Homo sapiens: one gene and its partner. The protein of the gene in region 2 purifies or fractionates together with the protein of the main gene of each other region. This does not show direct contact. Each region holds a gene or a part of one and is shown on either strand. Other genes may lie near its edges. The genes, in order: SEC16A and SEC24A.

Region 1 (14,984 bases), on a different chromosome or scaffold from region 2:
CCACTGGCTGTTGGTACTCCCTGTACCCGTGCAGGGTACCCCCGTCAGAGCCCGTGTGTGTGCTCCTGGAGCGGGATTCTAATGGCCCCACCTCCCCCTCAGGTCTCCTGGAGCTGACGTGGTGTCAGATTCCTACACGTGCCCCAGAAAGGCTGGTTTTGTAGACCAAGCCATGATCCTGACTCTCACTACAGGAGAAGCACAAGTTAGTACAATGATCAAGTATCAGACCTTCTGGTACCTTCAAGATTCTTGAAAGGCCAGCCTGGTAAACACAGTGAGACCCTGTCTCCATAAAACAGTAAAAAAATTAGCCAGGCATGGTGGCACACACCTGTAGTCCCAGCTATGCAGGAGGCTGAGGCAGGAGGATGGCTTGAGCCCAGCAGGTTTTAAGGCTACAGTGAGCTATGACGGCACCACTGCACTCCAGCCTGGCTAAAAGGGTGAGACCTAAAAAGACTCTTGAAAGGATGTAAGAGCATTTTATAATTTTCATACAATATTTAATTTTTAAAACGTGACCCTTCCCACGCCCCTTCAGGAGACATCACGGGAGCTGCACACCCGCCGCTGAGGTTGGCTGCTCGGTTGGCGCAGCACCTCTGCATGAGACGGGGCTGCTGCTGGGTGGCATGGGGCCCGGCCCACTTGTCCCCCTACATCCAACTGCTCAGCCACAGTAACGAGCCCTGCTGACCGACAGCCTGAGTGGCCACAGCAGGTTCTGGAGAAATTATCTGACTTGGGGTTTCCAAGGAGCCGCCGTGTCCTCAGCCGACCTTTCCAACCCCAGTCATTCATCAGGAGCAACACAGTCTCAAAAACAACAAGGCTAAGACAGGCAGTGCCTGCGGGGATCTGACCACACCAGGCCCAGAGAGTTGAGTCCATGCCACGCACAAGCACGGAGGCTGAACAAACATGCAAGACGTGTGCTCCCCAACCAAAGCGGGGGAAGGAGCAGAAAGGATTCCCCAGAGCCTGCGCAAGCCAGGGCTGAAGGCAGCCGCAGGATCCGAACACAGGAAGGAAGAGTAAGCCTGCGGATCTGGTGACAAAGCCACTCCTGTGGTGACCTGACCCTGCCTCTGGTGAAAGGCCTTCTCCGTAGCACGAGCCACCACTGGCCTCTCAGAATCGGTTCCTAGGTGAGCCTGGCAGGGCGGCCAGCAGCAGAAGGAAAACGGAACAGTGAGAATGCTCCCTGGCTGTCTCTCCTCCGTGCTCTCGCCTCTCAGGGCCTCTAGGAAACACCTGTCTGCTCACCCTCACCCGGAGCTGGAAGGCTTTGAATCGGAATATGATCTTAACTTCAAACCCCGCTTCCCAGGTGACAGGGTGACACACAGTAGCTCAAATCCTGGGAATTTTCTCACAATTACAGCCTCCAGAGAGGTGAAGCCTCACAGTGCCGCCTGCTTCACAAAGCACCTCCAACATCCAGCTGCACACCGCCCAGTGCATGCCCTTGGAGCCGAGTACACCAGGGCCAGCTGCGTGGGCAGAGGTTCACAGACAGAGCCTTTGTCTTTAGGTAAGCTCCTAAAAACCTCTAATAAGCACGAGGAACCTTTCAAAAACAAGTGCAGGTACAAAGTCTTCATTAATGAGTAGCTTTTTCTCTATTACCAAGTTTAAGAAGCAATATCCCCTTGCAGGAAGGCTCTATCTGTGAGACAGTCTCTCTCAGATCTCACAAGGAGCAAGTGCAGCTAAGGCCCTGGAAGGCGCAGCCTAGCGCGGTGGCCAGGACCACGCCCACCCCTCGCAGGGCTCTGCGCACCTCCCTGAGTGGAGATGAAAATCAACAACAGCCTCCTCTGCTCTAGGGCCCAGGAGGACTCTGACCTGGCTTAAAGGGCTACTCAGCTGAAGCCACAGTGCCACAGGTCTTTCCAAACCCCTCTTCTGTAATGGCAAACAGAGGAATGGCTGGCCTTCAAGCAGAGGCGGCAATGTCAAGGAGAAACATAGGCTGGCCGGGCGCAGTGGCTAATGCCTGTAATCCTAGCACTTTGGGAGACCAGGGCAGGAGGATCCCTTGAGGCCAGGAGTTCGAGACCAGCCTGGCCAACATAGTGAGACCCTCGTCTCTACAAAAAAAAAAATGAACAAAATTAGCTGGGTTTGATGGGGCATGTCTGTAGTCCCAGCTCCTCGGGAGGTTGAAGTGGGAAGATTGCTTGGGCTCAGGAGGTCAAGGCTGCAGTGAGCCAAGATGGCACCATTGCACTCCAGCTTGGACAACAGAGTGAGACCTGCCTTAAAAGAAAAAAAAAGAAGAGGAAACACAGGCTTTCAAGCCCTGCTTTCTGTAGCCAGCCTGACAGGTCTAAGAATTAAGTCACCTCTGTGACCAGTCCTCCCAGGCCTCCGGAGACCGGTGAAAAGCTGCCGTGTCTCTGGGGAGCCTGAACACCCCATTAGCAAATGGCCGGACCAACAGACGTGCCCCGTCAAGAGGGGCTCACAGACAAGTCAGAGGCTGCTTCTCTGCAGCCCTGAGCAGGGTCTGGCCCCAGTAGGGGTGGCGCCAAATGCTAACTGACCAGCACAGCTAATGACCACCTGGGGCAGTGTTTAATTTCATTTAAAAACACACCCTACAATTTGTCCATACCAAGAAAATGTCAACATATGTTAGATAAGTTTGTACAATTCTTCAGAAATACAGAACTTTTTGAGTCACTAAGTTATCCCCATAGCAAGCAACACAGACATGGGTCTGAGTAGGACAGAGAGGCAGCCAGGGTGGGCGCGGCCGCACCTGGGAGGTGGCCGTTCCGAGGAGTGGCTGGCTCGGGAGCTGGGCCGCTCGGGCTCGGGATAGCGGTAGTTCTGGGCGTAAGCAGACGCAGCACCATCATAGGGCCTGTATCGAGGCTCATAGAGGCTGTAGACATCCTGTGGGAGGAAGCATTTGGGCAGGATTAGACACCAATCAAGAGCAAGCTCGTCCAACAGCCAGCCTGAGCTGGAAACATTGCAGAGGGCGGGCAGCATTAGATACCTACCAAGAGCAAGCTCGTCCAACAACCAGCCTGAGCTAGAAACATCGCAGATGGCTGCTCTCCAGCAGGACTGAGCGTGGCCCTTCCCTCATACACAACCACACAGACCTCCAAAGCACAGCCACACCCACAGGCAGCAGGGTGTCCTAAGACCCACAGCCCTGGCCCTGTTCAGGAGACCTCTGGATGGACCCAGGGCACCAGCATGTCAGCAGACAACCCCAGGGGGCTGTGGCGACTTCTGGAAGGGGCTGTTAGGTTTCTGCTTCCTGATAAGTCCAGTGTGGAGATGCCATGATTTGAACAACCCCTGCGTCCCGCTTCAGATGCCACCTCAGTTAAGTCAGAGAACCAGGGTCCCAGTGAACAGAGCCCCAGCCAGGAGCAGCCTCTAAAAGCGGACCGTGCTTTATTCTCGGGAGGCTTCAGCCCCATCACCAACCAATTCGTGGCCACAGAATTGTTCCCAACGGGGCCCATGTGGACACATGAGGATCTGAAGACATGCAGTGCCCCGGACACACGCCAGAATTCACGCTTAAGCGCCTCAAAGCCTCAAGGCCTCGACGCTGCCGCTGCCTGGCAGGAAATGTGAAATCACAGCAAAACAGACTCATCCTTGGCCACCCGGACACCACAGCAAGAGGCACGGCGGGAGGAGTGCACTCCTGCGGAGGGAGGTGGCTCGCAGCAGGAGGACCGGACAAAGGACCCGAAGTGAGGCCACGGCTTCCCGTCGCTCTGCACCAGCCCCACCCCAGGGCTCCCAGCAGAGCTGAATGTCCTTGTATGGAAATAAAAAGTGCCTGGGCTCCTTCTGGAACCTACACAGGTCTGAGGGGTCAGGTGTGCACCTGGTCACACGCACACAAACCATGATGCTCGAGGCCCATGGGGGAGGCCCAGCCCCATTCCCCGGGGCAGTACCCAGCAAGCCACGGCAGCCTTGCTCCTCGGGGCGGGCCCCCTTCTGACTGCAAGGCCTTCCTGTGTGGCCCCAAGTCTGGTTCCAACTGGCCTTACATACCGCAAGACCATGGTTTTCCAATTCCCTATCACACAATCCTTCTACCTGGGGTGACACTGAATCGGTGAACCCAATCGGTGTATGTTGAACTGGGTTAGAGGGTAGGAAAAGCAGATAATGATCAAATGTGTACACAGACACTTTTCGAACGACTGCAGGATTATGCGGAACCTAACTCAAATGTCACTCATGAGCTGGTGTCCCTGTGAAAAAGAGGCACAGAAGAATCTTCTGCACGAGCACAGCCGGTCCCCGAGCCGCTGCCCGCACCACCACGTGCTGACAGCAGCTTGCGGGACTCCGCCTCGCTTAGCTGATGCGTGTGGCTCATGCTCCAAAACTATTTTCTCTCCATGTTTTTATTCTCCAGGGGCATTTAAAGGACTATGGTTATACCCAATGCTTCTGACGTAAGCTTCCAGAGGCTAGCCCAGCTTCCCAAGGCATGCAAGACAGAACTTTTCTGCAGACAGCCAGCAGGAGCAGGGGTGACAGCAAATGGAGGGCTCTTTTTGTCACATAAGCTGGGGAGGCTGGTTCAAATCCTAAGCAAGTATTATAAGCAATTCAAGATGCTAACGCGTGGTGTGAACTAAGGGTGGCCTGTGCTTGGGAGAGTAGGTTCTGGAGCCGGGAGCCCTGTCCTCAGGAAGCGTTACTGGAATACTGTTCTCACGCCTGCGGGACTGTGGGTGACCCCGGAACCAAGCGAACAAACACTACTAAGGAATACACTGTGAGTGAGACTCAACTGGTCAAAGCACAGACAGAAAAGTGGGTTACACATACGACTCGACTCTTACCTGGTAATAGAGGGAGGCTGCGCCAGGCTCCGGTGGGTACGGCAAAGAGTACTGAGGCTGGTAGGCATCGTACAAAGGCCGGTAGTAGTAGTAGGCGGCCAGGTCCTGAGGCGGTGGGCCGGGGGCAAGTGCAGGCACTGGCTGTGGCCACGGCTGCTCTGACGGCACAGCTGCCTGGCCGGAGCCACTGGACACCAGAGACACGCTAGAGGACTGAGGAGGCCGAGGGGGCAGCTGCTGACCCGCGTCGACCAGAACCAGACTTGCTGGTGACTGTGCTGAGTTCTGGGCCTGTCCCTGTGCGGGCAGACTTTCTGGATTTGACAGCTCCGAAAACATGGCTTTGGGTAGTTGTGGGGGAGAAGCCTGTTGCTGGGGTGGCACCAGCTCCTGCTGGGCTCTTTCGAGGCCAGGCTGGCCCTGGGCATCTTTCGTGACCTGCTGATAAAAACGGTCAAGGTTAGGCGCCCCAGGCCCAGATTGTCTGGGATGACTGGCAACACTTTGCTGAGAAGCGAGGCTGTCAGAATGGGACGGGTTGTACACGTTTACAGGATTTTCCAAAGTCCTGCTTAAGGTAAAGTCTAGGGCTCCGTAAGTGTCTTCCTGATGACTGGAATGGTTTGCCTTATTACCATCAGGCACCAGGGTGCCGTGTGCAGGTGGAACTAACACCACACTTGTGCTTCCAGCAGGGCTATTAGCAAATCCGGGAAGAGCACTTCCTGCCTTACGATCCTTTTGACTTTCTGGAACCAAGTTCTCTGGAACTGGCTGGGATGGTGGTTGAACCAGCAAATTAGCAGGCTGATTAGAAACCATTTCGGAAGCACCAGAACCTTGTGGAAAATTACTTTGGGCAACACTGCTAGGCAGAGACAAGCTAAGGACAGAGCTGGTTGGAATCCCAGACAAAGAAGTGTTCTCCCCAGAATCACCACCGAGAGCCCAACTGCTGACTGCAGGTCTATCCCCCACCAAAGCCTCTCTCCAGGACTGATTCTTCTCATGAGAGTTCGATAAGGACACAGAAAAGTTAATGGGCTGAGCCAGATTATAGCTGTGATCAGGCTGAGCAATCAAGACTGGAGGATTCTGCAGAGACTCAGTGGGCGGTGAGGATAATAAACTTGCATAACCAGAACTCGCCTGGGACTGAAGGGCCTCCTCCTCTCCCATTTTGGGAGGATTCTCAAGGTTCTCAGAAGCACCAATGCCACCTCGGCTCTGCACCGGGGCCGCCGAGCTTGGGTTCCGTGACTGCTGCCCGGACATCGCCTCTTCTGGAGGCTGAACAACAGGTGGCTGAGGTTTTGCACACACATAAAGCGCCGGGGCTGCAGGGGCCAGAAGGACGTTGCCTCCAAAATCTGGCAGCTCACTTTGCGCCCACAGAGTCGTTGCTGGGCTCTCACACTTCACGGGCCCCTGGGTCCTGGCTGAAGGCCTCTTCTCGGGTGCTGGATACACAGTATCCAAGGGCGGTGCCCCTGCGTGCGGAAGCATGTGCACAGCTTCCGTGGTGGAGTTAAGAGGCAGGGGACAGACCTGGGGTGCACAGAGGGTCTCCATGTTGTCTGGTGGCTGCTCCAGGTTGCCAGGGGAAGCATCGGGCAGGGCGGCAGCTGGTCTGCACTGCTTCTGGCGGACACAGGTCTCCCTTACTTCACCAACCACGTTGGCGCGATCTGCCTCAAATGGTTTTACCCCAACTAAGTGAGATTTTACCGGTTCGAAAGAACTATTTGCACTTGTCTGAAATATTCCTGTAGGTTTCGGGGGGCTCGGGGTTGAGGGCTGGGACACGCTGCCACGGTAATTCTGGCTCACAGTGGTCTCGTCTGTTTCACCTCCTACGGGAGAAGAATCGATTTGCTTAAAAAAACTACCTGAAGCTTCATCCTCGGGTTTTCCAACTTCTTGCTGAATGAATGTGCCAACCAGCTCCTGGGGCCTGGCTGAGCCTGAGAGCCTTCCGTGGCTTCTGCTGCTATAGCTGGATGACACGCTGTCAGGGTGCACTGTATGCAGTGTGGCATCAGGGGCTCCGGTGTGGCACACAGCACCATGCCTGGGCACAGCTGGCCCAGGAAGGGGCCCATATCTGAACTGGTCACTCGGGGAGGAAGGGTCCAAATTGAGGGGCTCACTTGGCAGAACTTCTTGATTCTGAACAAATTCTAAGTTCTCAACATTCTCATACTGCGAGCCGCTGGCATCCGGCACCCCTGTGCTCGCTGTGTCACCCCACACATCACCAGCAGCCTCATTGCTGGGGCCTGGGAGAAGGGCCTGGCAGAGGCTGCCTGCCCCCACGTGTGTAGGTGCGGGCGGACGGCCTAGCCCAGGGCTGGAGCAGAAATCGTCAAAGTCCGCTTGACCAGATAAGCCTGCTTTTTCAGATGAGAGATTCTCCTCATTTTCTGTCTCTCCCCCTTGGAAAAACATCGCCAGAGCTCCTGAAGCTCCTGAGTCTGCTTCTAGCGGGGCACAGCCAGACCCGGCCCCAGCCCCCAGTGGGTGGTGCGTACGGTTTTCTGGGCTATCTCCCCGGGCGAGGGGGTTCACAAGAGCAGAGGCGGGCCGGTGCTCATTCTTCACTCCTGGATTCTGCCTGAGCTCTGGGCTTGCCCAGTGATTCACAATTCTGGGATTTTGCCTGAATGTACTTTCAGGATCAGAGTTATTGGCCAGGTGGCTTCCACTTTGCAAGTGGCTCACCTCGTCTCTTCCGTCACTGGGCAAGGCTGCTGGGGGAGCCACCAGAGGGCTGTGTTGCTCATGACCAGGGCCCTGATGTAGGATGGACGGGGTGGGGAAATGAGGAACGCTGGTGGCACAGGGCACCCCGCTGGGAACAGGTCCTTCAGGGCAGGGTGAACGATGTTGCCCCGAGGGCTGTGGGCCTCCCTGCACTGGCCCCCACTGTCCTGGCATCTGCAGACCAGGCTGAGGGAGGGAAGGGGATGCTGCTGGGGTGACCACACCGTCATGTGGGTTTTGCCTGCTCAGGGGTCGGTCGAGCCCAGGCATGTTCCCATGAGGGTGGCCCCCATGAGACGTTTCAGGATCCACTCCTGGAATGTAGTGAGGAAGATATGGCAGAGTCTGAACTTCAGGCTCTGAACTGGGACCGACCTCTGCACTCCTGTTCATCTCAGGCCCAGGAGGTGCTGAAGGTGTCAATGCACCAGAAAACGGACTGGCATGTGCTCTGGGCTGTGTCAGAGGTCCAGGCAGGGGCTCACAGGGTCCCTGAGAGCTATCTCTGGCATGTGTGTGAGGAACAAGCAAACCGGGGTGCTGAGAAAACCCTGCGGGGGCTGGGCCTTGCAAGACAGGTGGACTGCTTTTGGACGAACTGCCCAGTGGTGTACTTTGGAGCGCCTGTCTACTAAAAGCAAATGGATCCGTGACCGGCTGCAACGGGCAAGTTGTCGGAGCCACTGCTGCATTATTATTAGCCCGTCTCCTGTAAGGGCTGCTAGCCCAGAACACGCTCCGAGGATTCCCGGCTGGAGGTGGCCCAGCCATGCCAGACGGGACCGTCTGGGGCGGTGGCTGCATGACTGAACCCTTGCACAAGTCGATGCTGCTTACAGAAGGAAGCAGGATATAGCTGTTCCTTAATTGGAGCTGGAAAAGAAAAAGAGAAAATCAGCATAAAATCCATATATTCAAAGTCCTAGCTGCAATCAGGAAAACTAAGGAAAAAGAGAAACATTGAACATGATTTTATGTCACTTAAATCCCAAGGACTCTCTCTCCCCTACACCCCACCCCAGCAGAGAACACCTGTCCCTGAGGAACTGTTCTGGGGGGCAGGGGACAGAGTGAGAACCCTGGATGGCCTGGCTGCGAGCTGATGGAGTATGTCTAGATGGCCACTCCCTCCCCTGGGATCCTCTACTCACAGGGCCCATTGCTGCCGCAGACCCGCGCCACAACAACAGGGACAGTGCGGAACCTGACCACTGCTGTGATATGCTACCAGACCCACAGATACTCAATGTTTTCCTGTAAACCATCCCTAGATCCAGGAAGAGCCAACTCTTCTATTAAGAAAGAAAAACTGGCCAGATATGGTGGCTTACGCCTGTACTCCCAACACTTTAAGAGGCCAAGGCGGGAGGACCACTTGAGCCCAGGAATTCGAGGCCAGCCTGAGCAACAGGGGGATCTCGTTTCTACAAAAAATACAAAAATCAGCCAGGCATGGTGGTGCACACCTGTAGTCCCAACTACTCAGGAGGCTGAGGCAGGAGGATTGCGTCAGCCTGGGAGGTTGAGGCTGTCGTGAGCTATGACAGCACCACTACCCTTCAGCCTGGGTGACACAGTGAGTCCCTAGCTCAAAAAAAAAAAAAAAAAAGGAAAACTTTATATCATACTTTCCATACATGTTAATTTTAAATTTCAAAAGGGATACAAAAGTTTAAAATTCATTCTTCCATTTTCTTTGATGAAAGAGCATTATGAAGTATAGTTATAAAAGCTGCAAAATAGGCTGGGTGCAGTGGCTCATGCCTGTAATCCCAGCACTTTGGGAGGTCAAGGTGGAAGGACTGCCAGAGCCCAGGAGGTCGAGACCAGCCTGGGCAACATAGCAAGACCTTGTCTCTACAAAAGAAGAAAGTTAGCCAGACATGGTGGCACACACCTGTAGTCCCAGGGACTCAGGGGGTTAAGGAAGGAAGATCACTTGTGTCCATGAGTTCGAGGCTGCAGTGAGCTATGATTATACCACCGCGGTCCAGCCTGGGCAACAGAGCAAGACGGTCTCTATTTTAAAAAAATAAATAAATAAAAAGTGACACAATCATTTTTTTAAAAAGCACTGCAAAATAAATATATTCATCTAAATGCCTTTTATCACACCTCTTCATAGGTCTCCGTTTTTGTACTGTGACTGGCTTAAGGTCTGAAAGGACCACCAGCAAGATGTTACCTTTGAACTGGAGCCGTAACTGTGCCTGGAATGGAAACTCCCAGGAAACTTAAAGCAGCTTTACAAGGCACAGACTGGATTCCAACACTTTCAACAACAGGCAGAATTGCCAAGAAACCTCTTACAGAAAAGAAAGGGGCAAAAACCTCCATCAGTTTTTAAATAAAACATAGTAGATACAAACTTGAATAGTTAACCTGGCCTCTTAAGGCAAAAATTCAAGGACTATATCTTTAGGAAAGTTCTTTTCTTTCTATCAGTCTTTCTTCTTGTCAGCACCACCCTCATGAACAAACAGATAAGTTTAGCCAATCAAAGGAAAAATTAAACCAAAGGGGAGGACTCTGTAGTTTAATCCACACATTTTTTTTTTTGAGACGGAGTCTTGCTCTGTCGCCCAGACTGGGGTGCAGTGGTGCGATCTCGGCTCACTGCAAGCTCCGCCTCCCAGGTTCATGCCATTCTCCTGCCTCAGCCTCCTGAGCAGCTGGGACTACAGGCACCTGCCACCATGCCAGGCTAATTTTTTGTCTTTTCAGTAGAGATGGGGTTTCACCATGTTAGCCAGGATGGTCTTGATCTCCTGACCTCATAATCCACCCGCCTCGGCCTCCCAAAGTGCTGGGATTACAGGCGTGAGCCACCGTGCCTGGCCAATCCACACATCTTTGCAGATGTATATTATTTTGGTCTCTTGGAAATCTTTCTGATATTCAGATAAAAGAAGAAAACACTGGCCAGGTGCAGTGGCTCACACCTGTAAGCCGAGCACTTTGGGAGGTAGGAGGACCACTCGAGTTCAGCAGTTTGAGACCAGCCTGGGCAACACACAGCGATACCCCATCACCAAAAAAAAAATGCCGGTCGTGGTGGTGCGTGCCTGTAGTCCCAACTACTCGGGAGGCTGAGGTGGGAAGATCGCTTGAGCCAGGGAGGTTGAGGCTGCAGTGAGCCTTGTTCAAGCCACAACACTCCAGCCTGGGCGACAGAGTGAAACTGTCTCAAAAAAAAAAAGAAGAAAACACTGATCAATGTATTTTAAGTCAAGCTATTTACTAGGAACAGCAGCAAAGGCTTCATGGAGGTTTTAGGCTCTCATCTGAAAACAAAGAATGTTCACAGCTCTATTTTATATGGACTGAAAGGAGAACAGGCAGAGCATCTTCCTCTGATCTGTGCACTGGCATTATCTTCCACTGGGTCCTACCAGCTGCACAGCCACAGCAGACACAGCGACACCTGCAACCACGGCCAGAACACGCAAACTTCCAAGCACCTCCTGAAACTCTGCTGCCAGAACTGGGGTCCTACCTCATCTCTCAAGACATGGCCTTCCCCGGGAAGATCCTTATCATCCTCAAAAGCTTTTGTTTGCTTTAAACACAGAGCACGGGCCTAGAGGTTTATTCCTTGGCTGCTGCTGTGAGAGCAAAACTGAGTGTCCAGGTGAGTGGCTCGAGGCAGCCACTCCTCTTTCTGCAATGTATTTTTGTCTATAAAATGCGAGAATCGATGTGATTATTTTTTCCTAAAAAACCCGGGTTTAATCTTATGAGATTCTACTCACAGTGGATTCTGGGATGTCCTAATCCCACCTGCTGTTTAACAGGGGTGGCCGGGCACGGTGGCTCACACCTGTAATCCCAGCACTTTGGGAGGCCGAGGCGGGCAGATCAAGAGGTCAGAAGATCGAGACCATCCTGGCTAACACGGTGAAACCCCGTCTCTACTAAAATACAAAAAATTAGCCGGGCGTGGTGGCGGGCGCCTGTAATCCCAGCTACTCGGGAGGCTGAGGCAGGAGAATGGCGTAAACCTGGGAGGCGGAGCTTGCAGTGAGCTGAGATCGCGCCACTGCACTCCCGCCTGGGCAGAGCGAGACTCCGTCTCAAAAAAAAAAAAATTATTCCGCAGCTCTCCTAGACTAAGAGCTTTTTTATGGCAAACATTATCACTTACAAGGAGCATTCCAACCTTCATGCTCCCTAATTGAGAGCTTTTTAGCAACATGCCACTTTCATTTGGAACAATCTTGTGACTTGAACTGATTTTTTTGATCTTTTTCTCTACTCACCAGGAGAAAAACAATGCAACTGCCTATCACCTATGTCACCACTACAGGGAATTTTATTCTTTTTTTTTTTTTTTTTTTTTTTGAGACGGAGTCTTGCTCTTTCACCCAGGCTGGAGTGCAGTGGCGCGATCTCGGCTCACTGCAGGCTCCGCCCCCCGGGGTTCACGCCATTCTCCTGCCTCAGCCTCCAGCGTAGCTGGGACTACAGGCGCCCGCCACCTCGCCCGGCTAATTTTTTTTTGTATTTTCAGTAGAGACGGGGTTTCACCGTGTTAGCCAGGATGGTCTCGATCTCCTGACCTCGTGATCCGCCCGCCTCAGCCTCCCAGAGTGCTGGGATTACAGGCATGAGCCACCGCGCCCGGCCCAGGGAATTTTATTCTGTAACCTCAAGTCATCTAATTCTTTTATTGTTCCAAAGAGGCCAGCTGATCTTGAAAATGCAGTATTCATAAACCTAGCTAGTCAGTTAAACTGCCTTGTAACCATGTGGATACCTAAGCAAAACTCTTTTTAGTACAGTTCTGGCTACAGAACTGAGGCATTTAAAATGCATGCACACCCCTCTCCTCTTGCTGCCACTGGCTTCATATTTTAAGTGAGGAAAACAATAGTGTGCCAGGAAGCCCCTGAGTTTACCTACTGCCTACAGTCTCCCTCACGGTGGCTGCTAGTGACGCCCTGTCAGACTGTGGGATGCTTGACACAAAGACATGATCAACTCCAACTCTTCTAAGTTAGAATCGCAACCACATACAGTTAGATGTTGAAGAGGAAGCCAGCGACAGAGGAGGCCAGCAGCCTAACACTGATGAAAATGACGAAGACCCTGGTATTCATGAAAGATGCTTACAGAAGAAGAAATCACATTAACATTTACCCACTACCATGACCTCTTGCTGGATTTGGCAAAAAAAGACAAAGAAAAAGAAAAAAAAAGTGCCCACTGCCTCAAAGAAAACTTTAAGTACAATTTTGAGACTCACTGTAGTAACCACTATTAACAGTAAACGAGGAACAAGGAACAAGAAAGACACGCTATTTTGCCTCTTGTCTACAAGATACCAGCACCTGAAACTTAAGAAAGGGGATGAGGAAAAAACGCAGGGAGGCTGCATTGTGCTGAAACTTGCAAAAGTATCACTTCTAGGAAGAACCGTCTGCGGTTCCGTTTGCTTCGTATTGCCACATGGGGGATGGGAAATACCTCTTTGGTTAACATCGGCATCACACATGTAAAACAAAATCTTAATATACAATCCACACCCAACTTACAAGCCATTTAAAAGTGTTCTTAAGCGGCAAAAACTGACTTTAAATGGCTCTGATGTTTCTGAAGGCTCTACTGTAACACTTCCATCACAAAGGGGCGAGCCGGATCACACACACTCCTCTAACCCTCGGCCTCTGTTGCAACATCCTGATCGCCCAATCAAGAAATTACAAACAAACAACTCTGCTCTTTGGTTCAAATGTAAATGTGTCTCTTCACCAGCATCGCTAAGGAAGCCTTCTAGCCGGTGAGGACAAGACACGCTCATTTGAAAAGTTAAGAGTCTTACGAGGGGTGCCTGGGGGTCCAGCCTCCCGCCCCGGGAACCGGCGTCACCGCAGCCCAGCCGGGTCCACGTCAGTCCCTCGAGTCCCACGGCGGCCCGCGCCGCGTCCGGCCTTCCGCTCTGGCCCGGGGGCCCGGACGTCTGTCCCCTCGACCGGCCCCGGCGGGACCCGAGATGCACCGCCCGCTCGGGGCTGGGCCCAGCCGCCTCCTCTCCTCCGCGCCCCGACCTCCACGGCCTGGCTCCGCCGGCCGGCCTCCGCCTTCCTCCTCCCGCGCTCGCCCCCTCACCCGCGCTCGCCCCCTCACCCGCGCGGCTGAGACCGATCCCTCAGGAGCCGCGGGCGAAAGCCCACCCGACGCTGGCGACGAGCACAGACACCTCAGCCGCCGCAGCCATCTTGGCACATCCGGCTCGGGTCTCCGCGGCCGCCGCGCCGCCGACGTGTCCGGCTTACGACATCAGCGCGCGCCCCGCCCCTGGCCCCGCCCCTCGGCTCGTCGGCCCAGACGCGTTCTCTTTCAGCCCTTCACAGCCCATCCCTCGGCCCCGCCCCTCGCCGGCGTCCGTCCTCCCCGCCTCATCCCTCTGTCCCGCCCCCTCTGCCCCCGCCCCTCGCCGGCGTCCGTTCTTCCCCGCCTCATTCTTTCGTCCCGCCCCCCGCCCGTCTTCCACGCCTTATCCTGTAGTTCCCGCTCCCCTTGGCCCCGCCCCTCTTCCGTCGTTCCTCGCCTCATTCTTTCGTCCCGCCCCCTTAGCCCCGCCCGTCGTCCGTCTTTCTCCGCCTCATCCTGTCGTTCCCGCCCCTTTGGCCCCGCCCCTCGGCCGTCCTTCCCCGCCCGTGGCCCCGCCCCCCTCCGGCGTCCGTCTGCCGCCTCACCGCTTGGCCCCGCCCCTCGCCACCTGCCCGGCCAGGCGCGCCGGGGCCGTCCCAGTACGTCGCCCTGTTTACGCTGGCTCTTTCTCCCAGTCTTTTTTCGTTTTAAGATGTGAGAAGAGATGGGATTCTTCAATCAAGGCCACAAGCGGGAAATCAGTCTGCAGGACCGATGCCAGCAGGCTCACGCACCGAGAACGGCTACTCCGCCCAGCTGAGAAGCGCGGGGCCCTGACGCGGGCGCGCTCCTCGCATTCTTCCGTTGGGCTGGGAGGCTGGAGGGCAGGCGGCGGCGGCCGCGCATGCGCCGGGAGCGGCCGGAGCTGCGGGACGCGGAGGGCCGACTGCGCCTGCGCGCTGGTTGCCTGGTTACGGCGTGGCCGCGGGCACCGAGCGGCGCCGGAAGTTGGTCGATGGCTGCCGCCAGTCCCTGGCCAGCGTCCTGGGGTTTCCCCGACGCATCCTCTACTGTCCCTTCGCTCTGCACAGAGGCCCGGGCAGGGAGGGGCGGCCCGGCCACCGCGCGGAGCCGGGTGTCCGCCGACTCGCAAGGGGGACGCGCGGGCTCCTCGTCCCCAAGCTCCGCCCTGCGCCTTTGCTGCGCCGGGCCCTCCCAGGCCCACCCTGGCCCCAGCCCTGCTGTCCTCCCGGGGAGGTGCGGCCTACTCGGTTCGTTCCCCCG
Region 2 (14,984 bases):
CTGCCCAGATAAAGACACAAAAATATATTAATTTTTTTTTTTTTTTTTTGAGATGGAGTTTCGCTCTTTTGCCCAGGCTGGGGTGTGGTGGCGCAACCTTGGCTCACTGCAACCTCTGACTTTCGGTTTCAAGCATTTTTCCTGCCTAAGCCTCCCAAGTAGCTGGGATTACAGGCACTCACCACCAGGCCCGGCTAATTTTTGTATTTTTAGTAGAGACGGGGTTTTACCATGTTGGCCAGGCTGGTCTCGAACTCCTGACCTCATAATCCGTCTGGCTTGGCATCCCAAAGTGCTGGGATTACAGGCAGGAGGCACTGTGCCCAGCCAAAATACACTAAAATATTAAAAGGTAGTGTTGAGAGTTATCTTCATATTCCCTTTTCCCAAGAGATAATTATGGCATGGTGAAAGAGTAACCAAATCAAAAGGCCTAAATTATTATGCAAGTTCTACTACTAAGTGAAATTTGGCATGTCACTTAACCTAAGTCTGTTTTCATATCTGTAAAAGAGGATTAACAGCATTTTTCTAGCTTGCTTCAGAATACTGTTTGTGCTGATCAAAAGTGTACGTGCTTTATAAAATGTAAAGTGCTAATTAAACATTAGGCATTCACAAGCAGCCTAAGCAACATAGTGAGACTCTGTCTCTAAAAAACTTTTAAAAAATTAGCAGGGCATGGTGGTGCATGTCTGTAGTCCCAGCTACTTGGGAGGCTGAGGCAGGAGAATTGCTTGAGCCCATGAAGTTGAGGCTACAGTGAGCTATGATAGTGCCACTGCACTTTAGCTTCAGCAACAAAGTAAGACCCTCCTCTCTAAAAGAAATAAACGTTAAACAAAAAAATTAGGCATAGTAATTAGTTTTAAAATGCAAGACCTCAGATATTCTCACGGGTGTAGAAAAGAACAATATTTGCAAGAGGATCTTCATCACAGCATTATTTCTAATAGAAAAAAAATTTGTATGAAGGAAAAATGAAGCAATAGGGAAAAAAAAACTGACTGTAACTTATAAGTAAATATGAGCTGGCCGGGCACGGTGGCTCATGCCTGTAATCCCAGCACTCTGGGAGGCCGAGGTGGGAGGATCACAAGGTCAGGAGTTTGAGACCAGCCTGACCAACATGGTGAAACCCCGTCTCTATTAAAAACTCAAAAATTAGCCAGGTGTTGGCTCGCGCCTATAATCCCAGCTACTCAGGAGGCTGAGGCAGGAGAATTGCTTGAACCCGGGAGGCGGAGGTTGCAGTGAGCCAAGATCACAGCACTGCACTCCAGCCTGGGTGACAGAGTGAGACTCCGTCTCAAAAAAAAAAAGTAAATACGAGCCCAATATCATATTGGAAATTTCTGAATGTCACATAAGACACTTAAATGGGACTTTACATAAACTTTTACCTTTCAAATATACCCTTATATATTAATTACTTTAGTAATAAACAAGTATTACACTTTTACACATTTAAAAACATAAAATTTTGGCTGGGCACAGCGGCTCACACCTGTAATCCCAGCACTTTGGGAGGCCAAGGTGGGCAGATCACTCGAGCCCAGGAATTCGAGACCAGCCTGGGCAACATAGCAAAACTCTGTCTCTAATAAAAATAAGCCAGGTGTGGTGGTGCGTGCCTATAGCCCCAGCTACTCAGGAGGCTGAGGTGGGAGGATCACTTGAGCACGGGAGGTCGAGGCTGCAGTGAGCCTTGAACCTGCCACTGCACCACTGCACTCCAGCATGGGCAATGAGAGTGAAACTCTGTCTCAAAATAAAATAAAATAAAATTTTGTTACAGGATGCTGTATTGTTTTACTTAAAACCTGGTAATAAAAAATGGGTATACTGTATCAAAAAATAAAAGTTTACCATGTATTCTGAAGGAGCCATAAACTCAATAGTAGCATTTTGAACTTCTGGTCTTCTGTGAGGTTCTCCATAAACTCTGGTCAAAGGGTTGTACAAGAATTCTTCAGGAACTATATAAAGTTAACAATACACATATTGAAAAAACTGAAAAGAATTTAATGTATTTTGCATTTGGCCACTTTCTTCCTTGAAAAGATGACAAACATTCATTAAATGTCAATTATTTTCTTTTTTTTTTTTGAGACAGAGTTTCACTCTGTTGCCCAGGCTGGAGTGCAGTGGTGCAATGTCAGCTCACTGCAACCTCCACCTCCTAGGTTCAAGCGATTCTCCTGCCTCAGCCTCCCGAGTAGCTAGGATTACAGGCATGCGCCACCACGCCCGGCTAATTTTTTGTATTTTTAGTACAGACGGGGTTTCTCCATGTTGGTCAGGCTGGTCTCGAACTCCCAACCTCAGGTGATCCGCCCGCCTTGGCCTCCCAAAGTGCTGGGATTACAGATGTGAGCCACCACACCCGGCCTATTTTCTTAAACTTCCCAATTATACAAGGATATTAACATTTCACATATGAAATGTACAGACACTAGCTGGCACTAGAAGCTATGGTAAGACAATTTCAGAGGTCAAGGTCATAAGGTTTAGTAAGTTTCATTAATTAATGAGAACTTTATGGAACATCACTTAACCTAACATCATACCTACCACTTATAATACACTAGTGGTCAAAGAGTATTTTCTAAATTAATTATCATTGTATCTGTCTTCCTACTAATTGTTTAGAAATTCAAATCCCTATGCACTCTAAAGGTTAAGCTATAGTTCAGGAAATAGCCTGGTTTGCAGATGAAAGGGGCTTCAACTTTTATTATAATTTCATTTTGTATATTAAAGCACCTACACATAAAAATTTTAAAGGTAACTAAATACTTCATGTACATTTTCAGAATTGTTACAGTGCAAGAGAAAGTTCTTAGCCTATCCTTACTTTTCTATACTCAAAACACACACACACACACACACACACACACACACACACAAACAATAAAACTGTTTTTTTGTTTTGTTTTATTTGTTTGTTTGAGATGGAGTTTTGCTCTTGTTGCCAAGGCTGGAGTGCAATGGTGCAATCTCGGTTCACTGCAACCTCCGCCTCCCGGGTTCAAGCGATTCTCCTGCCTCAGCCTCCCGAGTAGCTGGGATTACAGGTGCCCGCCACCACACCCAGCTAATTTTTTTATATTTTTAGTAAAGATGGGGTTTCACTACATTGGCCAGGCTGGTCTCAAACTCCTGACCTTAGGTGATCCACCCACCTCAGCCTCCCAAAGTGTTGGGATTACAGGCATGAGCCACTGCACCTGGCTCTGTTTTGTTTGTTTTTGAGACAGAGTCTCGCTCTGTCGCCCAGGCTGGAGTGCAATGACTCGATTTCGGCTCACTGAAACCTTTGCTTCCTGGGTTCAAGCGATTCTCCTGCCTCAGCCTCCCGAGTAGCTGGGATTATAGGTGCCCGCCACCACACCCGGCTAATTATTGTATTTTTAGTAAAGATGGGGTTTCACTGTGTTGGCCACACTGATCTCGAACTCCTGACCTCAGGTGATCCACCGCCTCGGCCTCCCAAAGTGCTGAGATTAGAGGCGTAAGCCACCGTGCCCATCCAATAAAACTGGTTTTTAAAAACTCTTGGCCAGGGCTGGGTGTGTTCTCGGGAGGCTGAGGCAGGAGAATTGCTTGAACCTGGGAGGCAGAGAGGTTTCAGTGAGCTGAGATCATGCCACTACACTCCAGCCTGGCGACAGAGCCAGACTCTGTCTCAAAAACAAACAAACAAAAACAAACTCTTGGCCGGGTGCAGTGGCTCATGCCTGTTAATCCCAGCACTTTGGGAGCCTGAGGTGGGCAGATCACTTGAGGTCAGGAGTTCTAGACCAGCCTGGCCAAAACGGTGAAACTCCACCCCTACTAAAAATATAAAAATTAGCCGGCCGTGGTGGTGGATGCCTGTAATTCCAGCTACTCAGGAGGCTGAGGCAGGAGAATCGCTTGAACCTGGGAGGCGGAGGTTGCAGTGAGCCAAGATCGTGCCACTGCACTCAAGCCTGGGCAACAGAGTGAGACTCCATCTCAAAAACAAAAACAAAAACAAAACTCTTATATTCCTCTATTTCTCAAATCTTTCAAATAGACACTGTGGATACTGGCATACCCACTTCCTTCTCTAATACTAACAGAACCCTGTTGATTACATTATAGTCCTCAAATAAAAACTGTGACATAGTTATTGAGAGAAATCTCCTCCTCCTCAATTACTGAGAAAACTACATTCAACTAACCTTCTAGCACTGCCTACTTCCCTTCATTCAGCAGTGAATGAATTGGGCAGCTATTCTGTGGACTTATTTTCTTTCACCCTAGAGAAAAGGCGTGGGACAATTTCTAAATAAAAATGTTTCTTAAATTCCTGGCTTAAGTAATACCATGAAATATACCACTTATTATATACCCAATACAATGTAAAAATGGGATATCCATGTAATACTATCATTATTTTTTGCTTAAAAAATAAATAATTAAATTTATTTATAAATATAAACGCACAGAAAAAAGTTACCTGTAGTTTTCTCTGAGTGGAAGGATTGACTAGAGGTAAATAAAAGGGTTTTTTTTTTTTAACTGTGCATTTGTATCATCTGATTTCCCTACAATGCAAGTAGAAACGTTTAAATGTTTCAAAAAAGCATCCCATACCATCATTGACTCGATAACATAAGTTACACTTCCATCTCCTTTGATCAAGAAAGCTGACGAAAGGATTGATGTACGTCCTGCATGAACGGCATCTCACAATTGTACTGGAGGTAACCACAGGCAATTGCTGGAAAAAAAAAAACAGAATTAAATTTTTAAAGGCAAAAATCATCATGTTGAAAACATAAGCATGAATCCATCCTGTCTAAATAACTGTTGGGATATTATCATTTTAGAGAAAACTTAGAGTACAAGATGTATCTAAACTGCCATACACAAAAACCATGTAGTTGAAATGTATTAATTTTAAACCCTACTATTTTGCTCCAAGACCATTCTCATTAAAAGTTGTCTTAAAAAAAAAAATTATTGGCTGGGGACAGTGGCTCACATGTGTAACTCCAGCACTTTGGGAGCCAAGGCGGAAGGATTGCTTGAGGCCAGGAGTTTGAGACCGGCCTGGGCAACATAGTGAAACATGACCCTCTCAAAAGATTTAAAAAATTAGCCCAGTGTGGTGAGCTGGGTTGAAGTGGGAGCATCACTTGAGCCTGGGAGGTCAAGGCTGCAGTGAGCCATGACTGAGCCACTGCACTCCAACATGGGCAACAGAGCAAGACCCAGTCTCAAAAAATAAAATAAAATAAAAATGTAAAAACCATTTTTTTCCTCATTAAACACTCATATTGCAAAACCAAAATAGCAGGCCAGGCACAGTGGCTAACACCTATGTCTAAAATCCCAGCACTCTGGTGGGAGGCCAAGGCAGGAAGATTACTTGAGGCCAGGAGTTTGAGACCAACCTGGGCAAGAAAGTAAGACCCTGTCTCTATTTTAAAAATAAAAATAGGCTGGGCGTGGTGGCTCATGCCTGTAATCCCAGCACTTTGGGAGGCCAAGGCGGGTGGAACGCGAGGTCAGGAGTTCAAGACCAGCCTGGCCAACGTGGTGAAACCTCGTCTATACTAAAAATACAAAAATTAGCTAGGCGTAGTGGCAGGTGCCTATAATCCCAGCTACTCAGGAGGCTGAGGCAGGAGAATTGCTTCAACCCTGGGAGGCAGAGGTTGCAGTGAGCCAAGATTACACCACTGTACTCCAGCCTGGGCAACAGAGCAAGACTCCATCTTGGAAATAAATTAAAAAAATATATATATATATATCCCAGTGCTTTGGAAGGCCAAAGCAGGAGGATCACTTGAGGCTGGGAGGTAGAGACCAACCTGAGCAACACAGCAACAGCCCATCTCTACCAAAAAAAAAGAGTTTTTAAATAAATAAATAATAAGTTAAAAAAATAAAACCAAGATGGTAAATTTACAATGTACTTTTGGCATAAATGGCAAAGAAAAAAAAATCAACATTCTAAAATATATGACCAATGAAACTATTACAAAGTTTGTTGATGTTACATTAAGAAGCTTACTTAGTTCTCAACTATAATAAAGTAAGGTGAGGTTAATTTAAATAACCAGTTAAACTTTGGAATTACACTCCTAGTTAAAGTTTATCCTACATATTAAAAGTTCTAAAGTCTTAGCTGGGTATAGTGGCCAATGCCTACAGTACCACTTACTCTGTCTGGAGGCTGAGGCAGGAGGACTGCTTGAGCCCAAGAGTTCAAGGCTGCAGTGAGCTATGATCATGGAACTGCACTCTAACCTGGGTGACAACGAGAGACCCGGTCTCTAATAAATAAATAAATAAATAACAGTAAATACGTGGGAAGGGTCTTTGTAAGACTATCAGATTTGGGGAGATTTGTTTTGATTTACCAGAAACCCTGAGACAGGTGAACACTGATCAACTTAACTGAGAGCCAGTGCCTTGGACAACAAAGTGACATAGCATCTCATCTTTAAAGAAAGGTTTTATTTATCTTTTTTTTTTTTTTTGAGACAGTCTCACTCTATTGCCCAGACTGGAGTACAGTGTGGGATCTTGGCTCACTGCAACCTCCACCTCCCGGGTTCAAGCGATTCCCTTGCCTCAGCCTCCCCAGTAGCTGGGATTATAGGTGTGCATCACCATGCTTGGCTAAATTTTCTATTTCTGGTAGAGACGAGTTTCACCACGTTGGCCAGGCTGGTCTTGAATTCCTGACCTCAGGTGATCTGCCCGCCTCAGCCTCCCAAAGTGCTAGGATTACAGGTGTGAGCCACTGCACCTGGCCTTTATTTTTTTTTTTTAAGATAAGGATCTCATACCCAATCCTGGGCAATGCAGTTAAGACTCTGCTTCTTAAAAAAAAAAAAAAAAATCAATACAGGCAATAAAATTATATCACCACCAAAAAAATCCTATCACCAAAAGTAGTGTGTTTTGGGAAAGTCAGCAATCCTCAAGAGTATGTGGCCACAGAGCTTTAGGACAAAGGTAGATCAGTTTCTTTTTTCTTCTGAAATAACTTTTCTTTTTGGATACAGGGTCTCACTCTGCCACCCAGGCTGGAGTGCAGTAGTACAATCATGTCTCACTGCAGCCTCAACCTCCTGGGCTCAAGTGATCCTCCCACCTTAGCCTCCCGAGTAGCCAGGACTAAGCTGGTCTTGAACTCATAGACCCAAGCAATTCTCCCACCTTGGCCTCCAAAAGTGCTGGGATTACAGGCCATGAGCCACCATGTCTGGCTTAAAACAACTTTTTAAAATAACAAATTTTACTGCAAGGATGGCAGAACGGGGAGACTAGGGTAAAGTACTTTAATGGGTAAATAATTCACAACCTATTAAAATAGTATGATTCATTTATTTAGTTTCTCTCAGTACCTCTATTCTATTCAGTACTTTTTGAATTTTCCAGCAATATACTTACTTTACCTAGTATTTGAAAGTGTTTAGTAATAAAATTTTTGGTTGAATTGTAAGTAATCTGTCAATCATCGACTTCCTAAAGACAGATCAAACAAATTCTATATGTAATTCTTGCATCATTGCAGAAAATTTTCATCACCAAGATAATTTTGCACAAAAGACATTTACCTTCACTAAAGAGGCCGGGTGTAGTGGCTCAGGCCTATAAATCCCAGCACTTTGGGAGGTGGGCAGATCACTTGAGGTCAGTTCGAGACCAGTCTGGCCAACATGGTGAAACACCATCTCTACTAAAAATAAAAAAATTAGCTGGGTGTGGTGGCAGATGCCTATAATGCCAGCTACTTAGGAAGCTGAGGCAAGAGAATTGCCCGAACCTGGGAGGCGGAGATTGCGGTGAGCCGAGATCTCGCCACTACACTCCAGCCTGGGCGACAGTGAGACCCAGTCTCAGAAAAAAAAAAAAAAAAAAAAAAAGAGCCGGGCGCAGAGGCTCACGCCTGTAATTCCAGCACTTTGGGAGGCCAAGGCAGGTGGATCACGAGGTCAGGAGTTCAAGACCAGCCTGGCCAAGATGGTGAAACCCCCTCTCTACTAAAAATACAAAAATTAGCCAGGCACGGTGGCAGGCACCTGTAATCCCAGCTACTAGGGAGGCTGAGGCAGGAAAATCACTTGAACATGGAGGGCAGAGGTTGCAATAAGCTGAGACTGCGTCACTGCACTCCAGCCTGGGCGACAGAGGGAGACTCCGTCTCAAAAAAAAAAAAAGAAAAGAAAAGAAACATACCACTAAGTCTTTGAAAGGATGAAGCAGCAGCCCCAAAGGAAGTTTGGCTTTATTCAATAAGGCCTGCGTCTGAGGAATGCTAGTCAGCGTGCATCGAAATAACCTATATCAAAGTAAAAAGTATGTATCAGTTGCTGCTATGATTATTTTTGAAGAAAACAACAACAAAGATTTAAAAGGTATACATTTTAATACTGGATCAGATTACAGATGAAATATTTCAATAGAGTCTCAAAATTTTATCCCATTTAAATATTTAAATCTAAGTCCTATGCAGAAATAGAGTGGATGGTTATCCTATAACTAAAATATAGTCTCTTTTTGGCTTGTGTGTAAAACAGTCTAAACTATCAAATGACTTATTTTTTGTTTTGTAAGTCTAGTTGACACTGGAATTAAATTAAACTTAGGTGATGGCCCAAATTGCAAAGTCTATTATTTAAAAGTTCAGTTTTGCTGAAGATTCTAAATACAATTTAAAGGTACCAAATTTAATTTATCAGAAATTATTGATCATATACATTTAAGCTTATGGTAAGTTTTTAGGAAAAAAAGGTATTATGTTTGTTATGAAATTAATTTTAAATGAGAGCAAATAAAGGATTATGTAGAAACAAATCCCTGTACTTTGGATTTTGAAGAAAGAAAGTAACCACCATAATGATAATGAATATCATAATCTCATTAGAGCTGATAAGAACAAAATCACTTCAGGAGTTACATCCCTATTTCTTGACGTAGGACTTTTCAAATCTCTATTAAGTAAACAAGTAAAAGAGTTCTATCATCTGTATCCAGAACTTTCATAAATTAATAATTTGTACAGCTTATTCATAACACCTGATGTGCCCCCTGCAAAAAGCTAGAAAACTTTTCGGACATGCATAATGTCACATCTGAAGCCTTACTCTGGGTTACAGTTGAGTTTCTGGATGTCTTCATGCAAATTTGGAACTGGAGGCTTCAAAGGTGTTGACGGAAGCATGTTTCTTTCTTGAAGAAGATTGACAACTCTTAGACCCTCTGGTTGTAGACTTAATCCACTCATGCTTGTGGTTAAATGATTAGCACCTAAGGGAGTCTACAGATACATAATTTTAAAGTAAGTAACTTTTATTAAGTGTGTAGGGAAGTGGTTAATTTCTCTGTAAATAACAAAAGTGTAATCTAGATCTCTTGGCCAATCTTTTGGTTCTGGAAAAATGTATAAAGACAAAGGCTTTATGAAATATCCATTATTATTCTAAATGGTTATAAAAATGTATAATATACCTTCCTAAAACTTTCTTCATGTGTATACAGTTTAAACCAAATGGAGAAATAGGTTAAAGAAAATCCCAAAAAGTTTACCTGAGTAAAGGCTTGTGGCCCACTTGGGTAATTCAAGGAAGAGGGTGGTACTCCAGTTGCACCAGGTGGTGTTGTGTTCTGATAACCAGGTGGTAAGGAGGGATATGAATATCCAACACTTCGGCTCATTTTGGGATTCTTGTTAGTAAGCTGTGGTGTTGCTAGAAACAAGGTAACTTTTAAGTTCTATTTTATACTCCAGAATACTTGATTTATTTATTTTAAAAAAACATTTTTTTTGGAGAAAGGGTCTCACTATTGCCCAGGCTGCAGTGCAGTGGTGCAATCACACCTCACTGCAGCCTTAACCTCCTAGGTTCAAGTGATCCTCCTGTGTCAGCCTCCCAAGTAGCTGGAATGACTGGTGTGTGCCATCATGCCCGGCTAATGTTTTTGTATGTTTTGTAGAGACGGGACTTCACCATGTTGTCCAGGCTGGGATTACAGGCGTAGGCCACCATGCCTGGCCCAGAATGCTTTAAATCAACACATAAATCTAATAAGTTATAGGTATTATAACTCCAAAATTCTTTGGATAATTTAATACTTTCATTTATCAAATTTTTAAAATAAGACAAACACCAGTAACAAATAGCAATGACTAAAATCTATTTATTTTATTTTATTTATCATTTTATTTTTCGAGATGGAGTCTCACTCTGTCGCCCAGGCTGGAATGCAGTGACACAACCTTGGCTCACTGCAACCTCTACCTCCCGGGTTCAAGCGATTTTCCTGCTTCAGCCTCTCGAGTAGCTGGGACTACAGGTGTGTGCCACCACACCACCTAATTTTTGTATTTTTAGTAGAGATGGGGTTTTACTACGTTGGTCAGACTGGTCTCAAACTCCTGACCTCAGGTGATCTGCCTGCCTTGGCCTCCCGAAGATAGGATTACAGGCCATGAGCCACCGTGCCCGGCCAAAAATCTTGTTAATGGATTTACACTAGTTAATATTTTATACTATAGTAGTAGACACAAAAACTAGTTTGCACAGTTAATTTACTTTCATGTCGGCTGGGTGTGGTGACTCATGCCTGTAATCCCAGCACTTTGGGAGGCTGAGGTGGGTGGATCACTTTGAGGTCAGGAGTTGGAGACCAGCCTGGCCAACACAGTGAAATCCCATCACTACTAAAAAGTACAAAAATTACCCAGATGTGGTGGCATGTGCCTGTAGTTCCAGCTACTTGAGAGGCTGAGGTGGTAGAACTGCTTGAATCCAGGAGGTGGAGGTGAGCCGAGATTGTGCCCACTGCACTCCAGCCTGGACGACAGAGGGAAACTGTCTCAAAAACAAAAACAAAAACAAAAACAAAAACAACAAAACAAAAGAACAGTTAATTTACTTTCATATCATGTACTAAATTTTGTATTCAGACTAAAATTTTAATTCAAAACAACTTTAATTATAACATCCTGGCAGGGCGAGGTGGCTCATACCTGTAATCCCAGCACTTTGGGAGGCCGAGGTAGGTGGATCACAAGGTCAGGAGATCGAGACTATCCTGGCCAACGTGGTTAAACCCTATCTCTACTAAAAATACAAAAATTAACTGGGCGTGGTGGCACGTGCCTGTAATCCCAGCTACTCGGGAAGCTGAGGCAGGAGAATCGCTTGAACCAGGGAGTTGGAGGTTGCAGTGAGCCAAGATCACACAACTGCACTCCAATCTGGGCGACACAGCAAGAATCCATCTCAGAAAAAAAAAAAAAAAAAAAATCCTAAATGGGCCGTGTGAGATGGTTCACACCTGTAATCCCAGCAAATCGGGGAACCAAGGCAGGAGGGATCTCTTCAAGCCAAGGGTTCGAGACCAGCCCAGGCAATATATTGAGACCCACCCCCCCATCTCTACAAAAATAAAAAAACTAGCCTGGCATGGTACCATATGCCTATAGTCCCTGCTACTCAGGGAGGGTGAGGTAGAAGATCGCACGAGCCCAGGAGTTTGAGGCTACAGTGAGCTATAACAGTGCTACTGCACTTGAGCCTGGGTGACAGAGACCCTGTCTCAAAAAAAAAAAATCCTAAAAGTACTCTATAGTCAAAACATAATAATAATAAATCCATGATCCCAATTCTGACAGAAGAAAAACTTAACAAAAAATCTAATGCATAGAAATAAAAAATGTTAAATAATAGAGCCAGATGTTATGGCACATGCCTATTATCCCAGCACTTTGGGAGGCAAAATGGGCAGATCGCTTGAGCCCAGGAATTCAAGACCAGCCTGGGTAACATGGTGAAACCCTGCCTCTACAAAAAATACAAAAATTAGCCAGGGCCTGGGCATGGTGGCTCATGCCTATAATCCCAGCACTTTGGGAGGCCGAGGCGGGCAGATCACTTGAGGTCAGGAGTTAGAGGACAGCCTGGCCAACATGGTGAAACCCTGTCTCTACTAAAAATACAAAAATCAGCAGGGTGTGGTGGCGGGTGCCTCTAATACCAGCTAACTGGGAGGCTTAAGTGGGAGAATCACTTGAACCCAGGAGGCAGAGGCTGCAGTGAACCGAGATACTGCCACTGCACTCCAGCCTAAGCAACAGAGCGAGACTCAGTCTCAAAAAACAAAAACAAAAACAAAAAGCTGGGCATGGTGACACGTGGCTATGGTCCCAGCTACTCAGGAGGCTGAGGTGGGAGGACTGCTTGAGCCCAGGAGACTGAGGCTGCAGTGAGCCATGATCGCACCACTGCACTCCAGCCTGAGCGACAGAGTGAGACCCTGTGTCCAAATAAATAAATAAATAAGTTAATAGTATGTATGGCTACATGATTATGAAGTTTCCCTCTTAGTTTCCTATATATTTGTACAATTACCACATATTATTTCTATAATCAGAAAAAAGAGATTAAAAAAAAAACTTTCATAGCATCTCACCCAATAAGCCACCTCCTTCAATCTCGTCGTAACTACTGTGGACCACCATAGATCCGTTATTGGTATTTGATGTAATACCTAAGAAGGAAGTTCATCAACAAGATTTTAATTAGAATGATTATTACAATCTCTGTATGATTTTAACTAATATCCAAAATTTTAAATAATTTTCTAAACAACAAATAATTTAAAACCACAGCCTATTAACAACATAAAAAATCCAAGTTTTTACATATACGATAGTTTCAAGTAATTTAGCTGCAACTTCAGGGAAAGGAAACATGAGTCTTTGGAAAGAGTCTTTTTTCACCTTACATTGTACCTAAGCCAAAGGCCCAAATAACAAGGCTTTTTCAAAACCTACTCCAGCAAAATAACTTCTAGCAAAAGATGGTTCTTTATGAAGTTTATAAAATTATATACCATCTGAAAGATTTCAGCAGTTGTGAGAGCTGCATTAAAAACCTCTAAGGAGCAGTACACAATGAAAAAAAATTATCAAAATCAAAACTACCTAAAGAAAAAGAGGCCAGGTGCGGTGGCTCACGCCTGTAATCCCAGCACTTTGGGAGGCCAAGGCGGGCGGATCACGAGGTCAGGAGTCAGAGATCAGCCTGGCCAACATGGGGAAACCCCGTCTCTACTAAAAATACAAAAAAAATTAGCTGGGTGTGGTGGCGCGTGCCTGTAATCAGCACATGCCTGTAATCAGCTACTCGGGAGGCTGAGACAGGGAATTCCTTGAACCTGAGAGGCAGAGGTTGCTGTGAGCCAAAATCGTGCCACTGCACTCCAGCCTGGGCGACAGAGCGAAACTCCATCTCAAAAAAACAAACAAAAAAAGAAAGTAAAATTATGAGGAGCAAAGACCTTACTTTCTTTTCTTTTCTTTTTTTTTGAGATGGAGTCTCACTCTGTTGCCCAGGCTGGAGTGAAGTGGTGCGATTTCAGCTCACAGCAACCTCCACCTCCTGGGTTCAAGGGATTCTCCTGCCTCAGCCTCCCATGTAGCTGGGACTACATGTGCCCGTCACCACGCCTGGCTAATGTTTTTGTATTTTAGTAGAGACAGGGGTTCACCATGTTGGCCAGGATGGTCTCAAACTCCTGGCCTCGTGATCCGCGTGCCTTGGCCTCCCAAAGTGCTGGGATTACAGGCATGAGCCACCGTGCCCAGCCCTTATTTTCAAAATATCTAACAATGAGAGTGGAATCCAAATTAATTTGAAGATGACATAAATGAATTAGAACAACTGCTTTAAGTCCAGAGGACAACCACTAAAATAGAATTAAAATCTTAACATCTCTTCTCCCAAAATTATACAGGATTAAAGACAAATGCCAGGGACATCTGTTTATGAGAACTAAATATTTATTTCTAGTTACCTCTACTAAGTATGAGCTCTAATTCAGGAATAGAAGACACTTAATTCAGTGAATAGCATTAACCTCTAGCACCTAAGTACAAAACTGCTAACTTCAATAGCTGTATTAACACGAAGTAGATACATTTAATGGTTTAAAGTCAGTAACTTCTTTCCAGTTCTCAAGACCAACATGATTTTAGCCATGAATTTGTAACAGAAAACCACAGTAAAACTTTTAGGAGAAACAAAAACACTGGGCATATTGTGAATTATTTTTAGTTGTTAAAAAAATGTAGGCAAGGCGTGGACGCTTACACCTGTAATCCCAGCACTTTGGGAGCCAAGGCAGGCAGATCACTTGAGCTCAGGAGTTCACACCAGCCTGGGCAACATGGGAAAACCCTGTATCTACTGAAAATACAAAAATTAGCTGGTTGTGGTGGCACATGCCTGTAATCTCAGCTACTCAGGAGACTGAGGCACAAGAATCGCTTGAACCTGGGAGGCGGAAGCTGCAGTGGGCCAAGATCCTTCCACTGCACTCCAGCCTGGAAAACAGAACTCCAGCCTCAGCAAGAGTGAGACTTATGTCTCAAAAATAAATAAAATAAAATATTAGCCAGGTGTGGTGGTACACACCTGTAGTTCCAGACCAGGAGGCTGCAGCTGTAGCCTCCTGCACCTCTGCATTCCAGCCTGTGTGACAGAGTAAACTCTATCTCTTAAAAGTTTTTTTTTTCTGGGGCCGGGCGCAGTGGCTCATGCCTGTAATCCTAGCACTTTGGGAGGCTGAGGCAGGCGGATCACAAGGTCAGGAGATCGAGACCATCCTGGCTAACACAGTGAAACCTCGTCTCTACTAAAAATACAAAAAAAATTAGCCGGGCGTGGTGGCAGGCGCCTGTAGTCCCAGCTACTCGGGAGGCTGAGGCAGGAGAATGGCGTGAACCCGGGAGCGGAGGTTGCAGTGAGCCAAGATCGTGCCACTGCACTCCAGCCTGGCAGACAGAGTGAGACTCCATCTCAAAAAAATAAATAAATAAAAATTTTTTTCTGCCGGGCACAGTGGCTCACGCCTGTAATGCCAGCACTTTGGGAGGGTGAGGCAGGAGGATCACCTGAGGTCAGGAGTTCGAGACCAGCCTGACCAAC

The links.
Region 1: the proteins of SEC24A (region 2) and SEC16A purify together in Homo sapiens (affinity purification with western blotting; 2 studies listed by BioGRID and IntAct, with this or other methods). This does not show direct contact.

Annotation. Positions count from the first base shown.
Region 1 is NC_000009.12:136,469,205-136,484,188, forward strand, and holds the start of SEC16A (protein transport protein Sec16A), read right to left. Parts: upstream 13,837-14,984; 5' UTR 13,734-13,836; intron 9,627-13,733; 5' UTR 9,505-9,626; intron 8,481-9,504; 5' UTR 8,412-8,480; coding exon 4,845-8,411; intron 2,908-4,844; coding exon 2,771-2,907; intron 1-2,770. UniProt on the Homo sapiens protein: Acts as a molecular scaffold that plays a key role in the organization of the endoplasmic reticulum exit sites (ERES), also known as transitional endoplasmic reticulum (tER).
Region 2 is NC_000005.10:134,669,368-134,684,351, reverse strand, and holds part of SEC24A (protein transport protein Sec24A), read right to left. Parts: intron 12,544-14,984; coding exon 12,466-12,543; intron 9,738-12,465; coding exon 9,577-9,737; intron 9,308-9,576; coding exon 9,135-9,307; intron 8,330-9,134; coding exon 8,227-8,329; intron 4,751-8,226; coding exon 4,624-4,750; intron 1,980-4,623; coding exon 1,870-1,979; intron 1-1,869. UniProt on the Homo sapiens protein: Component of the coat protein complex II (COPII) which promotes the formation of transport vesicles from the endoplasmic reticulum (ER).